2 linked regions of the Homo sapiens genome follow. Changing the gene in region 1 together with any one later gene gives a genetic interaction. Each region holds a gene or a part of one and is shown in the gene's direction. Other genes may lie near its edges. The genes, in order: NOD2 and RBL1.

Region 1 (8,554 bases):
GGCAGCTTCAGATTATGTCAGGGAGATAAAATACTGAATGTTTGATTTTCCCGGGAAGCAGAAAGGCACTGCAACATATGGGCATTGCCATAAACAGATTTTATGGATGGACCTTGGCTGTTGCAGGGCTTACTAGCTCTACTCAAGTATGATTGATTCTATCCTGACTGGATTTTGCCACTTGGAATTTCTTAGTAGAGGAGAACCTTGTTATGAGAGCATCAGTTATGATTACTGTTAAAAGAAAAACTTTAGGCAAATTAAATTTAGCAGAACTGGTTTGAACATACAGCAATTTATGAATTGGGCAGCATTCAGAACTGGGAGTGCTCCACCCAGCAAGGTAGGCAAGCAGTATCTATAGACAGGAAAAGGAAGTGATGTACAAAACAGCTTGATTGGTTGCAGCTGGGCATTTGCCTTATATGGGCATGGTGTGATGAGGCATTTTCTTTATATGGATATAGACTGATCAGCTGGTAGACTGTGACTGACTGAAGCCTGGCTGCTGTGATTGGCTAAGACTTAGCTGTTTGTTATAAGGATATGTTGTTAGGTTGCAGTTTGCTACATAGGAACTCAAAGTACAGAGGCAGTCTCAGGCCAAATTTAGTTTAACTATATGTTAAGCTGCAGGTGACAGAATACCTCCATCTATAGAGGTTTAAACAAGGAAAGGGTTTATTTTTTCCTGTATAGGCAGCTGGATGTAGGCAGTGTAGGGTTTGTACAGTGGCTACAAGAGGCCAGGAGGGGTCTCAGCTCTGTCTCATTCTCTTCCTGTTCCATCATTCTTAGCCTGTGACTTCATTCACATGGTTGGTTGTCTCATGATCACAGGATGGCTGCTCCAGGTGCAGCACTACTTCTGTATTCCCGGATTCGATCTATATACCCAGGAAAGCCATCTGGGTTCTCTCCTTTAAAAAGCATTCCTGGAAGCCCCACCTGTCGACTTCCCCTTATGTATCAACCATGTGTATGTCACTTGACCAACCCACTTGTATGTTGTTTGACCAGCCCTGGCTGCAATGGAGAGTGGGAAATACAGTTTTTTCACCAAGTGCATGGCTGTCCAAATGAAATGAGACTTCCATTAATAAGGAAGAAAGGAAAGATGGAGATCAGGAAGCTGGGGGATCAGGGAACTTATTACATTGAGAGCCCTTGGAGTGAATTCTCTTGCAAATATGTCCCTGGAATTGAGAATCCCCACAACGTACTTTATCTGTTCTTTCTTTATCCATGAGTTTGGGTTTTCAGATGTTGGATTTCCTATATGGGGGGCATGTGAGTTCATCATCTTCCATAATCAATGTTGTATCAACTGGATTTTCTCTCTTCTTCTCACCAGCCTGGAGGAGAACCATCTCCAGGATGAAGGTGTATGTTCTCTCGCAGAAGGACTGAAGAAAAATTCAAGTTTGAAAATCCTGAAGTAAGGAACCCATAAGCAGGAAACAGGACAATAATTGCTGGCCTTTGGAAGGGGCATTTCTGAATAAGATCTGGGCCGCTCTCCGCTGGGCTAACTCATGTGAGGTGGCCTGGTAGAACAGCTTGCCTTGGTCTAGGTGGACAAGGATTCCAGTGCAAGTTGTTTATCTGGGAGGTGGTCCCAGTAAATGCTGATAGGAGAGTGGTGAAGTGAGATGGGGAAGTGAAGGTAACCAATAAAGGGGAGTTATCAAGCCAGTTATCAATGAGGGAAATTGGAGCTCAGTACTCTGGGGCACTCCTGGAGCCAGTGCAGAACACACATGGTCACCTACCCAACCAATGGGCAAGAAAGCCATGGCATTTATCCACCAACCCTCTGTCCTTCCTATGTTGATGTGCGCTCATGGGGCACTGATTCTCCAGCACTTCCAGCTCACCCTCACCCAGCTGAACATGCTTCTGGGGTCAGGAGAATGGCCTCAGGCAGAGAGTGGAAGGTCTTCTCTGCAAGCAGTGGCTGGGGAGGTGATGTGATGGGGAGTACTGTGGCCTCCTCCAGTGGCTGACTCAGTGGCTTGGGACTTGTGCCACAAAGAGATGGACAGCTCAGGTGAACATGAACCCACCTAGTGACCATCATGGGTTTGTCAGGGTGCTCTCTGAGGCTGATGCCAAAATTCTTATTTCAAGTAGACCTCAGGAACCCCATCAGATGGCTCCTTTTGCTGGAGGAAAGTGGCATCTGCCTAGGCAAATGTGGTCCTAGGAAAACGCTTGCCTTTAGAGACAGACAGACAGACAGCTGCCTCTGTGAGTGCCAGCTTTGCTGCCAGGCTGCTACCCACTCTGGCGACACTCATTTGTGTTGCTTTCACAAGCTAGGAAGTTTCCAAATATTTGGAGAAAACACTTCCACTAATTATTTGGGTGGAAATGGGCTGGGAAGTTGGGGTGAAGCCCGGATGTGTCTGAGCCAGATGCCAGCTTTGCACTGAGGGTCGGCCTTTGGGAATACCAAGCCCATTATCAACCAGGTGTGGATATGGCAGGTTTGTCTTCCCTCCTTGTCACAGCCTTACTCCACTTGACTCCCATGGATGCCAGGCAATGAGGCTGGGGTTGGTCCCATGCCACCCTGTCATCAGCCTTATTTTTCAGCATCCTAAACTATATCATCCCCCACAAAAATTGAACTTCTGATATATCTTTTATAAAAAAGAGAAATGCCTACATCTTTCTTTTCCAGGCTTAGTTTCTGCCAAGAGTTGGTTGAGAGCCCAGGCTTGCTGGGTGCAGTGGCTCACACCTGTAATCCCAGCACTTTGGGAGGCTGAGGCGGGTGGATCACCTGAAGTGGGGAGTTCCATACCAGCCTGACCAACATGGAGAAACCCCATCTCTACTAAAAATACAAAATTAGCCGGGCGTGGTGGCATACACCTGTAATCCCATCTACTCAGGAAGCTGAGGCAGGAGAATCACTTGAACCTGGGAGGTGGAGGTTGCCATGAGCCAAGATCACACCATTGCACCCTAGACTGGACAAGAGAGAAACTTCCATCTCAAAAAAAAAAAAAAAAAGGATGAGAAAAATAATAATTTAAAAAAAAGAGTCCAGGCTCTGGAACCAGACAGCCTGGGTCTTACCCCTGCTCCACCATTACCAGCCAGTTCTTCTTGGATGAGTGCCTCAGTTGCCTCAAGTGTAAATGGAGATAATGGCTGGACCTTCATTATAGGCCATGAGCATTCACTGAGAGAATGTAGCTAACAAAAGTGAGTTGTAGGTTGGAGCAAAAGTAATTGTGGTTTCAGACCATGAACTTTAAATTATTATAACTAGGCTAAAATACATCTTTATTAATCAAAATAGGAACCATTAAAATCAACACATTTTTGCCAATAAGAAATAAGTTTGTTTATTCCTGTAGCATAAAAATTCATGCTTCGGGATTCAACAAACTCTTGGAAAGCATTTTCTGCATCCTCCTGGTTGTGGAAGCATTTTTCCTGCAGAAAGTTGTCAAGATTCTTGAAGAAATGGTAGTCAGTTGGCTAGAGGTCAGGTAAATATGGCGGATGAGGCAAAACTTCATAGTCCAATTCATTCAACTTTTGAAGCTTTGGTTGTGTGACATGCAGTCGGGTGTTGTCGTGGAGAATTGGACCCTTTCTGTTGACGAATGCCGGCTGCAGGTGTTGCAGTTTTCAGTGCATCTCATTGACTTGCCGAGCATACTTCTCATATGTAATGGTTTCGCAGGGATTCAGAAAGCTGTAGGGGATCAGACTAGCAGCAGACCACCAGTGACCATGACCTTTTTTTTTTGGTGCGAATTTGCCTTTGGGAAGTGCTTTGGAGCTTCTTCTCGGTCCAACCACTGAGCTAGTCATTGCCAGTTGTATAAAATCCACTTTTCATCGCACGTCACAATCAGATCAAGAAATGGTTCGCTGTTGTTGTGTAGAATAAGAGAAGATGACACTTCAAAATGACGATTTTCTTGGTTTTCACTCAGCTCATGAGGCACACACTTATCGAGGTTTTTCACCTTTCCAATTTGCTTCAAATGCTGAATGACCATGGAATGGTCGATGTTGAGTTCTCAAGTAGTTGTAAGAAAATCAGCTTTGATGATTGCTCTCAATTGGTCATTGTCAGCTTCTGATGGCCTGCCAGTACACTCCTCATCTTCAAGGCTCTTATCTCCTTCGCAAAACTTCTTGAACCACCACTGCACTATACGTTAGTTAGCAGTTCCTGGGCCAAATGCATTGCTGATGTTGTGAGTTGTCTCCGCTGCTTTACAACCCATTTTGAATTCAAATAAGAAAATTGCTTGAATTTGCTTTTTGTCTAACATCATTTTCATAGTCTAAAATAAATATAAAATAAACAGAAAGTATTAAGTCATTAGCAAAAAATCATAAAGTGAGAATTGTGCATTAAAATGATGTATAGCATAACCACATTTATTTAAGAATGTATTCCAATATCAAATGGCAAATTTCAACAATGCAAAAACTGCAATTACTTTTGCACCAATCTAATAGAAGTTCAATAAATACTGGCAATTACAATTGGCATTGCCTTAGGGTCAACTTGTAAGACATTCCTGAAATTGTGGGAAAGGGGGAGGACCTGGAGTGGACATTATTGGAAGGCAAAGCTGTAACCAAAAGAGCAACCTGGGAAACACATGACTCCTCTGTTGCTGTCCCTGGCCCTATCCTGTCTCCCCTCCCTGTTGTCAGCTACCTCATATGTTCTCTAATCTCTGTCTCTGTGCCCTCAAAGACCCCCCTGAAAATAGAAATATTACTGCTCATTGGTTATTTTCTATCAATTAAGTACTGTATTAGTCCGTTTTCATGCTGATGATAAAGATATACCCAAGACTGGGCACTTTATGAAAGAAAGAGTTTTATTGAACTTACAGTTCCACGTGGCTGGGGAGGTCTCACAATCATGGCTGAAGGTGAAAGGCACATCTCACATGGCAGCAGACAGGAGAAGAGGGCTTGTTCAGGGAAACTCCCCTTTTTAAAACCATCAGATATCATGAAACTTATTTACTGTAATGAGAACAGGATGGGATTCAATTACCTTCCACTGGGTCGCTCCCACAACACGTGGGAATTCAAGAGATTTGGGTGGGGACACAGCCAAACCATATCAAGTACTGTGCAAGTGTTTTAGGCATGCAGAGAGTGGTGGGTCTTCCCAGCAAGCAGAGTGTGGGGAGGTAATGGGGGACTGGTGGCTGACTTAATGGCCCAGGACCCATGCCACAAGGAGATGGATGGTGGATGTGAATAGGAGCCTGCTTACACCCATCACAATTTAGATTCTTATGCTCGATGGCACGGGTACTCTTTTAGGCCCATTTTACCAATGAGGAGATTGGGACTAATTTGCTCGAGATCAAAAAAGAAGTGGTGTAGGTGGGATTTAAACCCAGGATGTCTAGCACTAAAATGCAGGTACTTAACCACTATCCTAAGGGAGTGGCTACTTAATTTGATAAACTCATCTAGTGAATGGAAGAGAGACGGTTACATTTCACTGATGGTACTGAGCCTTTGTTGATGAGCTCATTGGGAATCTCAGACATGAGCAGGATGTGTCTAAGGGACAGGTGGGCTTCAGTAGACTGGCTAACTCCTGCAGTCTCTTTAACTGGACAGTTTCAAGAGGAAAACCAAGAATCCTTGAAGCTCACCATTGTATCTTCTTTTCCAGGTTGTCCAATAACTGCATCACCTACCTAGGGGCAGAAGCCCTCCTGCAGGCCCTTGAAAGGAATGACACCATCCTGGAAGTCTGGTAAGGCCCCTGGGCAGGCCTGTTTTAGCTCTCCGAACCTCAGTTTTTCTATCTGTAAAATGGGGTGACGGGAGAGAGGAATGGCAGAATTTTGAGGATCCCTTCTGATTCTGACATTCAGTGAGAATGATTCTGCATGTGAAGGATCTGATTCTCTGTCTAAGAAAGAAGTCTTTACCTCTTTAAGTAGGGAGCAATGATTTCATTTTTAAACCTTGACTATTTATTCAGCAACTTCTCTGCTCTATGAGATAGTGTAGGAATGGGGATGTGGTTGAAGAATGAAAAGAAAAGTCAGCTCCCGCCCTCCTAGAAATTGCATCTGCCTTCACAGGTCAAGGATATTGGATCAGACCTTCTGCGGTTCTGAATGGAGATTACACAGGTTAGGAGCAGGTTGCACAGTGTTTCCAATTCTCTATAATTAAAGCCATAGACTTTCATGTATTGAAAAAAGCAAGAATTGCATTCTTGACAGATTCTTTCATTGCCTTAAAAAGAATGACTAGCCTTGGGAGTCTGGGCAGCTGGGTCCAGTGTTGTAGACTTTCTCTCTGCTGAGCCACAGCTTCAAAGATTTGTCCTTCTTGTTTCCAGGGATCTATTTCTCAGACAATAAGTAAAGGCTTTCCCTGGCCTAATGTGCTGTAAGTGAATGCTACTATATATGTTCCAGGCACTGGGCTAGAGACTAATATTTAAAAGCCAGGAAATTTCCTATAGAAAATCTATATCTCAGGGTTTTCTCAAAAGAGCTGGGAACTCTGGATGCCCATTCATGATTCCAGTAGTTAACCAGAGTACAAGAAGGGCTGAGTCTTCTCAGATGGGCAAACCCACTCTGGCTGACTGCAGATCCACCAAGCCTATTGTCTTAGACCAGGACCCTTTGGCAACTCATTCCCATAAGCCTGTGACCCTTGCTTTAAATATGCAGGCCTTGTCTTCTCTCAAAAAGCACATCAAGGCTGCAGCGAATGCAGATATCAAATGATGAAGTTAAAAACAAAAGCTTTGCTGGGCGTGGCAGCTCACACCTGTAATCCTAGCACTTTGGGAGGCTGAGGCAGGAGGATCACTTTAGGCCAGAGGTTCAACACCAGACCTTGTCTCTCAAAAAATAAAAAATTCAGCTGGGTGCGGTGTAGTTCCTAGCCACTTGGGAGGCTGGGATGGAAGGATCCCTTGAACCCAGGAGTTCAAGGCTGCAGTGGGCCATGATTGCATCACTGCACAGGCGACAGAATTAGATCCCATCTCTTAAAAAAATAAAAAATTTAAAAGTGACTTCAAAAATCTATGCTGTGATGGAGAGATTTTTCCTTCTGTATGATTGTGATAGCTCTGTGGCCTATGACGTCATCAGGTTCTGGGCAAAGTGTAGGTTTTCTGTTTCTTTGTTTTTGAAACCATTGCACAGTCCTAAGAAACATCACATTCTGGGTCCTGGGCACCAGCCAACATGAGGTTGATATTTTAAGGGGTCTGATGTTATTTGCTGCCTGTTGATGGAACTTGGGAGGGCACCAGGGTTTGCTCATTGCATTCTTGACAGATTCTCTTATTGCCTTAAAAAGAATCACTGGCCTTGGGGAGTCTGTGGCTGGCTGGGTGCAGTGTTGTGGACTCTCTCTGCAGAGTCATGGAGCCTTGTTCAGAATGCTTCCTGAGCTGCCCTGGTTGGCCAAGGGTAAAAACAGCCCTGACTTCCCTGCAAGAAACACTGCAGCTGGGCCAGAGAGTCAGCCCATCCCAGGCATGGGTTTAAAAAGTGGAGGCTTTTGTTTGAAAGCCCTGCTCTAATTTTGTCCTCACTCAAACCTCTGTTCACTTGATCTGCTTTAGGCTCCGAGGGAACACTTTCTCTCTAGAGGAGGTTGACAAGCTCGGCTGCAGGGACACCAGACTCTTGCTTTGAAGTCTCCGGGAGGATGTTCGTCTCAGTTTGTTTGTGAGCAGGCTGTGAGTTTGGGCCCCAGAGGCTGGGTGACATGTGTTGGCAGCCTCTTCAAAATGAGCCCTGTCCTGCCTAAGGCTGAACTTGTTTTCTGGGAACACCATAGGTCACCTTTATTCTGGCAGAGGAGGGAGCATCAGTGCCCTCCAGGATAGACTTTTCCCAAGCCTACTTTTGCCATTGACTTCTTCCCAAGATTCAATCCCAGGATGTACAAGGACAGCCCCTCCTCCATAGTATGGGACTGGCCTCTGCTGATCCTCCCAGGCTTCCGTGTGGGTCAGTGGGGCCCATGGATGTGCTTGTTAACTGAGTGCCTTTTGGTGGAGAGGCCCGGCCTCTCACAAAAGACCCCTTACCACTGCTCTGATGAAGAGGAGTACACAGAACACATAATTCAGGAAGCAGCTTTCCCCATGTCTCGACTCATCCATCCAGGCCATTCCCCGTCTCTGGTTCCTCCCCTCCTCCTGGACTCCTGCACACGCTCCTTCCTCTGAGGCTGAAATTCAGAATATTAGTGACCTCAGCTTTGATATTTCACTTACAGCACCCCCAACCCTGGCACCCAGGGTGGGAAGGGCTACACCTTAGCCTGCCCTCCTTTCCGGTGTTTAAGACATTTTTGGAAGGGGACACGTGACAGCCGTTTGTTCCCCAAGACATTCTAGGTTTGCAAGAAAAATATGACCACACTCCAGCTGGGATCACATGTGGACTTTTATTTCCAGTGAAATCAGTTACTCTTCAGTTAAGCCTTTGGAAACAGCTCGACTTTAAAAAGCTCCAAATGCAGCTTTAAAAAATTAATCTGGGCCAGAATTTCAAAC
Region 2 (8,554 bases), on another chromosome or scaffold:
TCCGCCTCCCCGCAACTTCCACCTCCCCGCAACTTCCACCTCCCGGGTTCAAGCAATTCTCCTGCCTCAGCCTCCGGAGTAGCTGGGACTACAGGCATGTGCCACCACGCCCGGCTAATTTTGTATTTTTAGTAGAGACAGGGTTTCTCCATGTTGGTCAGGCTGGTCTCGAGCTCCTGACCTCAGGTTGTCCACCTGCCTCGGACTCCCAAAGTGCTGGGATTACAGGCGTGAGCCACTGCACCCGGCCAAAAAACAAAATTTTTAAAGTCCTCTGTAAGGGAGCATAATTTTTTGTAAGCCAAAAAATATTTAGTAATCTGACAAATTTTTTGCTGCTGTTGGTAAGAATCTTTTAATGAGGTCCTTAAGAGTCTCAGATTATATCAGCATGTCCAGAGTTTGAATGCTGTATTAGGACGTTTTACGTTGCTATGAAGGAATACCTGAGGTTGGGTGACTTATTTAAAAAAAGAGATTTATTTGGCCCAGGGTTCTGCAGGCCGTATAGGAAGCATGGGGCTGGCATCTGCTCCTGGTGAGGGCCTCAGGAAGTTTACAGTCACGGTAGGTGAAGGGGGAGGAGGCACATCACATGATGAGAGCAGGAGCAATTGAGGGTGGGAAGTGCCACACTTTTAAACAGCCAGATCTCAGGTGAGTGACAACTAAACTCACTACCATGAGGAGAGCACCAAGCCATTCATGAGGGATCTGCTCCCATGACCCAAACACCTCCCACTAGGCCCACCTCCAACATTGGAGGTCACGTTTCTTTTTTATTTTTTTGAGACGGGCTTTCACTCTCTTGCCCAGGCAGTAGCATGTTCATGACTCACTGCAGCTTCAACCCCTCAGGCTCAAGTGATCCTCCTGCCTCAGCTTCCTGAGTAGCTGGGCCCACAGTCACACACCACCATGCTTTGCTAACTTTTAAATTTTTTGTAGAGACGAGATCTCACTGTGTTGCCCAAGCTGGTCTCAAACTGGTGGGCTCAGGTGATCCTCCAGCCTCACCCTCCCAAAGTGTTGGGATTACAGGCATGAGCTACCATGCCCAGCCAAGGAAATTACATTGCAACATGAGATTTGGAGGGGACAAAACATCCAAACCACATTAAATAGCTTTGGATGATTTGCTATTAATGTCTTCTGTCACCTTAAAAAGAAATTATAAGTATTGGCCAGGCGAAATGGACTCAAGTAAGCCTTTCCAATCTACATGAAATAATCAGAACATAGGGCCGAGTGCAGTGGTTCATGCCTGTAATCCCAGCACTTTGGGAGGCCGAGGCAGGTGGATCATCTGAGGTCAGGAGTTCAAGACCATCCTGGCAAACATGGTGAAACCTTGTCTCTACTAAAAATACAAAAATTAGCTAGGCATGGTGGTGTGCACCTGTAGTCCCAGCTGTCAGGAGGTAGAGGCAGGAAAATTGCTTGAAGCTGGGATGCAGAGGTTGCAGTGAGCCAAGATCATGCCACTGCACTCCAGCCTGGGTGACAGACTGAGACTCCATCTCAAAAAAAAAAAATTACAAGTATTATTCTGTATATATTGCTAGACCTTTAATTAAGTGAGCTTTGACATGACAAGTTTTCTATCTAAGACCACGTTAACATAGGGACATAAAAAAATGTACCCAGAATTGGCCTGGGCACGGTGGCTTGCTTGAACACAGGAGGTGGAAGTTGCAGTAAACCAAGGTGGTGCCACTGCACTCCAACCTGGGCACCAGAACTATTAAGTTTTTTTCTGAGTATGTGCTACCTTCTTTACTTTTGGTTGTGGAACCACACATTGGAACTCAAACTCTTGAATTTTACTCCTAACCTGTAACAATCTGGTGCTTTGTAATCAAATTCCCATTTGGAAAATGGAATTGTCTTTCCATTTGGGAGACTTCTGTTTTCCCTCAAACTAATTTTATTTTATTTTATGTTTTTTTTTTTAAATTTATTTATTTTTTATTGATAATTCTCGGGTGTTTCTCACAGAGGGGGATTTGGCAGGGTCATAGGACAATAGTGGAGGGAAGGTCAGCAGATAAACAAGTGAACAAAGGTCTCTGGTTTTCCTAGGCAGAGGACCCTGCGGCCTTCCGCGGTGTTTGTGTCCCTGGGAACTTGCGATTAGGGAGTGGTGATGACTCTTAAGGAGCATGCTGCCTTCAAGCATCTGTTTAACAAAGCACATCTTGCACCGCCCTTAATCCATTTAACCCTGAGTGGACACAGCACTTGTTTCAGAGAGCACAGGGTTGGGGGTAAGGTCACAGATCAACAGGATCCCACGGCAGAAGAAGTTTTCTTAGTACAGAACAAAATGAAAAGTCTCCCATGTCTACTTCTTTCTACACAGACACGGCAACCATTCGATTTCTCAATCTTTTCCCCACCTTTCCCGCCCTTCTATTCCACAAAGCCGCCATTGTCATCCTGGCCCGTTCTCAATGAGCTGTTGGGCACACCTCCCAGACGGGGTGGTGGCCGGGCAGAGGGGCTCCTCACTTCCCAGTAGGGGCAGCTGGGCAGAGGCGCCCCTCACCTCCTGGACGGGGCGGCTGGCCGGGCGGGGGGCTGACCCCCCCACCTCCCTCCCGGACAGGGCGGCTGGCCTGGCAGGGGGCTGACCCCCCCACCTCCCTCCCGGATGGGGGTGCTGGCCTGGCGGGGGGCTGACCCCCCCCACCTCCCTCCCGGACTGGGTGGCTGCCAGGCGGAGACGCTCCTCACTTCCCAGACTGGGTGGCTGTCGGGCGGAGAGGCTCCTCACTTCTCAGACGGGGCGGCTGCCGGGCGGAGGGGCTCCTCACTTCTCAGACGGGGCGGTTGCCGGGCAGAGGGTCTCCTCACTTCTCAGACGGGGCGGCCGGGCAGAGATGCTCCTCACCTCCCAGACGGGGTCGCAGCCGGGCAGAGGTGCTCCTCACATCCCAGACGGGGTGGCGGGGCAGAGGCGCTCCCCACATCTCAGACGATGGGCGGCTGGGCAGAGACGCTCCTCACTTCCTAGATGGGATGGCGGCGAGGAAGAGGTGCTCCTCACTTCCTAGGTGGGATGGCGGCCGGGCGGAGACGCTCCTCACTTTCCAGACTGGGCAGCCAGGCAGAGGGGCTCCTCACATCCCAGACGATGGGCGGCCAGGCAGAGACGCTCCTCACTTCCCAGACGGGGTGGCAGCTGGGCAGAGGCTGCAATCTTGGCACTTTGGGAGGCCAAGGCAGGCGGCTGGGAGGTGGAGGTTGTAGCGAGCCGAGATCACGCCACTGCACTCCAGCCTGGGCACCATTGAGCACTGAGTGAACCAGACTCCGTCTGCAATCCCGGCACCTCGGGAGGCCGAGGCTGGCGGATCACTTGCGGTTAGGGGCTGGAGACCGGCCTGGCCAACACAGCGAAACCCCGTCTCCACCAAAACCAGTCAGGCGTGGCGGCCCGAGCCTGCAATCGCAGGCACTCGGCAGGCTGAGTCAGGAGAATCAGGCAGGGAGGTTGCAGTGAGCCGAGATGGCAGCAGTACAGTCCAGCTTCGGCTCAGCATGAGAGGGAGACCGTGGAAAGAGAGGGAGAGGGAGACCGTGGGGAGAGGGAGAGGGAGAGCTCCTAATTTTGTATTTGTAGTAGAGACGGGGTTTCTTCATGTTGCTCAGGCTGTGTCTTGAACTCCCGATCTCAGGTGATCTCAAACTAATTTTATAACCTGTCAATCTGTTAACTAACATTAACTTTGTAAATTTTATGCAAAATATTGTCTAGGTAATATAGAGAATAAAGGAAGTAGATAGGTGCTCTCGCTCCCTCCATAGCAGTAAACTCTATGTGATGACCACTAATTAATAACCTGTATTCCCCTGGTGATCCTGGGAACGAAAGTGATTTCATAGTGAGGACTTTTTTTTTTTAATTAAATTTAGGCTTGAGGGATGGTGTTTGTTCTTTGTTCATGTAAGACAGTGTCTTGCTTTGTCACCCGGGCTGGAGTACATGATTGAGGCTAACTGCAGTCTCGACATCCTGGGCTCAAGCAATTCTCCCACCTCAGCCTCCCAAGTACCTGGGGCTACAGGCACATGCCACCACACCCAGCTAATTTTTTAAATTTTTGTAGAGATGGGGTCTTAACTATGTTGCCTGGGAAATCTGGCTTTTTAATAAAGAGTCTTAGTCATGAATAGAATATTTCCTTTCAATCCATTATTTAAATGAATTTTAAAGGTGCCTTTTTTCTCCTCCTTTTTTTTTTTAGTTTAATACAATTTTTTAGTAAAATGAAGAAATGGATGGACATGTCAAATCTACCACAAGAATTTCGTGAACGTATAGAAAGGCTAGAGAGAAATTTTGAGGTGTCTACTGTAATATTCAAAAAATATGAGCCAATTTTTTTAGATATATTTCAAAATCCATATGAAGAACCACCAAAGTTACCACGAAGCCGGAAGCAGAGGTGAGCCCTTAATCCTTATATAATTGACATAAAGATTATGATACAAACTAAGAGAATATACTTTTTTGAAAGTCTGTTTTTTATGAAAAGTATTCCTGCAAAGAACTTAATTATTTTCTTTTTAAATCCATGTACAATTATCCATATTTGGAAATTCAGGATAATACTTTTACTTATTTTTCTTTCTGTTGTTGTTTTTTTTTTTTTTTTTTTTTTTTTGAGGAGTCTCATTCTGTTGCCCAGGCTGGAGTGCAGTGTCCTGATCTCGGCTCACTGCAACCTCTGTCTCCCAGGTTCAAGCAATTCTCCTACCTTAGCCTCCTGAGTAGCTGGGATCACAGGTGTGCACCACCCCGTCTGGCTCATTTTTTGTATTTTTAGTAGAGACCAGGTCTCACCGTGTTGGCCAAGGTGGTCTCGAACTCCTAACCTCAGGTGATCTACCCACCTCGGCCTCCCAGAGTGCTGGGATTACAGGCATGAGCCACCACACCCAGCCCTATGTTCTGATTATTTTATGCAGGTTGGAAAGGCTTACTTAAGTCCATTTCATAAATAATAGATTACTTTTCTTCATGAATGGAATTTCATGTGTAATTTGATCTATTTGATATTTACATTTACTATTTCAGTTTACATGATATTTAGCGAGCTAGTCAGACAAAAAGTAATTTTTTTCCCTTTTTAGGAGGATTCCTTGCAGTGTTAAGGATCTGTTTAATTTCTGTTGGACACTTTTTGTTTATACTAAGGGTAAGATGACACTTTCAGTGGTCTTACATTTCTACTCTGGGAACTTGGTGCTATTTGACATGAGAGGTTTCTGGTTTTTGTGTCTTTTTTTTTTTTTTTTCCCTTATAAAGGTAATTTTCGGATGATTGGGGATGACTTAGTAAACTCTTATCATTTACTTCTATGCTGCTTGGATCTGATTTTTGCCAATGCGATTATGTGCCCAAATAGACAAGACTTGCTAAATCCATCATTTAAAGGTAAGACCTTTTATTTATTTTTGAAAACTGATTATCAGTTTTTGGAAAAAGATTTTTAAAAGTTGACTATTTTTTTTTCCCTCTGCCCTTCCTACACTGTCAAACTAGGTTTACCATCTGATTTTCATACTGCTGACTTTACGGCTTCTGAAGAGCCACCCTGCATCATTGCTGTACTGTGTGAACTGCATGATGGACTTCTCGTAGAAGCAAAAGGAATAAAGGAGCACTACTTTAAGCCATATATTTCAAAACTCTTTGACAGGAAGGTACTGTACTTATAATTAGATGACTGAGATGTTTACAGATCACCAGTAATGTGAAAAGAAAAAAATGTTTTAAGCAAGTTCTCAGCATTATAGAACTTAGGGTCAGGATTCCCAGGCTTTAGCCTCTACTGTGATTCAGAATTTCCTTATGATCTTGTGTGATGTGAGAAACAGAGCTGTTGAAAAATGTGACCAACTATATGTACTGTTGGGTAAATGTACTGTCAGAGGCAACCGTAGGAGGTACTGATAAAGAATTGTAAAGAATAGAACATCAGAGTAGGGCTGACAAATAATTAGGAAAAACAGGAGGTCAGAATAAGCTGACTAATTTACTGCCACAATTTGAATAACTGCTGACTGTTGACTAAAAGTAGGATGATGTATAACAACCACAGTTTTAATTCCATGTAAATCGAGCAGAAAATCCATGATAGTTTTGTAGCCACTTGTAGGCTATCTGTGTGCATTCTGGACATTGTCTCCTTGGTAATTAACTTAGCTATTTCTACATTTATGAATTGGCTTGTTCCTTTGGGTTTCAATTTCTTATTTCCCCAACGTCGAGCCATTAAATGTAGTTAAGCCTCAAGATTTCTCTTTGGTAAAAGGAGGGGTTTGGATTATGGATCCCACTTTTCAAATATTATGAGATTTTTCTTTAAGCATAAATTCTTCCCTTACTGGTTTCTTCTTCTTTTATACAAATTTTTGTATTCAGTCTTGTGTTCCTCAGATATCTATATTATGGCCCATTGTCTGTATGCTAAACATCTCTAGCAAAGTAAACTTTTTTTAAAGGATCCCAGGGACTGGGCGCGGTGGCTCACGCCTGTAATCCCAACACTTTGGGAGGCCAAGGCAGGTGGATTGCTTGAGCCCAAGAGTTCCAGACGAACCTGAGCAACATGGCAAAACCTTGTCTCTACAAACAATACAAAAATTAGTTGGGCATGGTGGTGCACAACTGTAGTCCCAGCTACTTGGCACGCTGAGGCTGCAGTGAGCCATGATTGTACCACTGCACTGCAGCCCTGGTGACAGAACAAAACCCTGTCTCAAAAAAAAAAAAAAGTTAAAAAAAAAAGTTATTTGCATGCTAAATAGTTTATCCTAGTCTGAAAGAAATATTTAATAATTCTGTTTTGTGTGTGTGTTATAACAATATGGAAATTTAGATAAATTTCACGTTTGTGTGTGTATTAATATGCTTAATTATATGGTGTCCCAAAATAATTTTTTGTTCACAGATATTAAAAGGAGAATGCCTCCTGGACCTTTCAAGTTTTACTGATAATAGGTAAATATCTAGTACTAATGGTGCCTGGCTTATCACAAGCTGTCATATTTGTTGATTTGTTGAAATTTGTTAAGCATAACAGTATATCAAAGTAAGACCTCCAAATTCAAGTTCTCTCTGCTTTAGTGGCATTGAATGTTTATTATCACTAAGACTTGTTGGCTTTAAATACATTTATTTTAAGAAATCAAGGCCAGGCACGGTGGCCCACACCTGTAAACCCATCACTTTGGAAGGCCAAGGCAGGCAGATTGCTTGAGCTCAGAAGGTTGGAGACCAGCCTGGGCAACATGGTGAAACCCTGTCTCTACAAAAAATACAAAAATCAGCCAGACGTAGTGGTGTGAGCCTGTGGTCCCAGCTACTTGGGAGGTTGAGGTTGGAGGATCGTTTGAATCTGGGAGGTTGTGGTTGCAGTGAGCCGTGATTGCACCACTGCACTTCAGTCTAGGTGACAGAGTGAGACCCTATTTCCAAAAAAAAAAAAAAAAAGAAAGAGGCCGGGCATGGTGGCTCACGCCTGTAATCCCAACACTTTGGGAGGCCAAGGCGGGCCGATCACTTGAGGTCAGGAGTTTGAGATCAGCCTGGCCAGAGATCAGCCTGGCCAACATGGTGAAACCGCATCTCTACTAAAAATTCAAAAATTATCTGGGTGTGGTGGTGCACACCTGTAATCCCAGCTGCTTGGGAGACTGAGGCAGGAGAATCACTTGAACCCAGGAGGCAGAGGCTGCAGTGAGCTGAGATCATGCCACTGCACTCCAGCCTAGGCGACAGAGCGAGATTCCATCTCAATTAAAAAAAAAAATTATTGATACTTACGTATTTATTTTTATTTTTTTAGAGATGGGATCTCACTGTGTTGCCCAGGCTGGTCTCTAATTCCTGGCCTCAAGCAATCCTCTCACCATAGCCTCCCAAAGTGCTAGGATTACAGGTATGACCCACCACACCCGGCCAATTGGCATTTAAAACAGCTACTCAGCCAGGCGTGCAATGGCTTATGCCTATAATCCCAGCACTTTCGGAGGCCAAGGCAGGCAGATCACGAGGTCAGGAGATTGAGACCATCCTGGCCAAAATGGTGAAACCCGGTCTCTACTAAAAATACAAAAATTAGCTCGGTGTGGTGGCACACGCCTGTAGTCCCAGCTACTTGGGAGGCTGAGGCAGGCGGATCGCTTGAACCCAGGAGGTGGAGGTTGCAGTAAGTTGAGATCGCACCACTGCACTCCAGCCTGGGCAGCAGAGCAAGACTCATCTCAAAAAAAAAAAAAAAAAGAAAGAAAAGAAATTAAGGCCGGGCACAGTGGCTCACACCTGTAATCCCAGCACTTTGGAAGGCCAAGGCAGCCAGATCGCTTGAGCTCAGAAGGTTGGAGACCAGCCTGGGCAACATGGTGAAACCTTGTCTCTACAAAAAATACAAAATCAGCCAGACGTAGTGGCGTGAGCCTGTAGTCCCAGCTACTTGGGAGGCTGAGGTGGGAGGATCATTTGAATCTGGGAGGTTGAGGTTGCAGTGAGCCATGATTGCA

The links.
Region 2: changes in NOD2 (region 1) and RBL1 together harm fitness less than expected from each alone (positive genetic interaction), as found in Homo sapiens cells (one study listed by BioGRID).

The regions. Positions count from the first base shown.
Region 1 is NC_000016.10:50,724,135-50,732,688, forward strand, and holds part of NOD2 (nucleotide-binding oligomerization domain-containing protein 2), read left to right. Parts: intron 1-1,354; coding exon 1,355-1,438; intron 1,439-3,280; exon of another isoform or gene 3,281-4,316; intron 4,317-4,878; exon of another isoform or gene 4,879-5,016; intron 5,017-5,683; coding exon 5,684-5,767; exon of another isoform or gene 5,768-5,819; intron 5,820-7,612; coding exon 7,613-7,685; 3' UTR 7,686-8,554. UniProt on the Homo sapiens protein: Pattern recognition receptor (PRR) that detects bacterial peptidoglycan fragments and other danger signals and plays an important role in gastrointestinal immunity.
Region 2 is NC_000020.11:37,063,883-37,072,436, reverse strand, and holds part of RBL1 (retinoblastoma-like protein 1), read left to right. Parts: intron 1-4,250; coding exon 4,251-4,451; intron 4,452-5,139; coding exon 5,140-5,204; intron 5,205-5,315; coding exon 5,316-5,444; intron 5,445-5,552; coding exon 5,553-5,713; intron 5,714-6,963; coding exon 6,964-7,013; intron 7,014-8,554. UniProt on the Homo sapiens protein: Key regulator of entry into cell division. Directly involved in heterochromatin formation by maintaining overall chromatin structure and, in particular, that of constitutive heterochromatin by stabilizing histone methylation.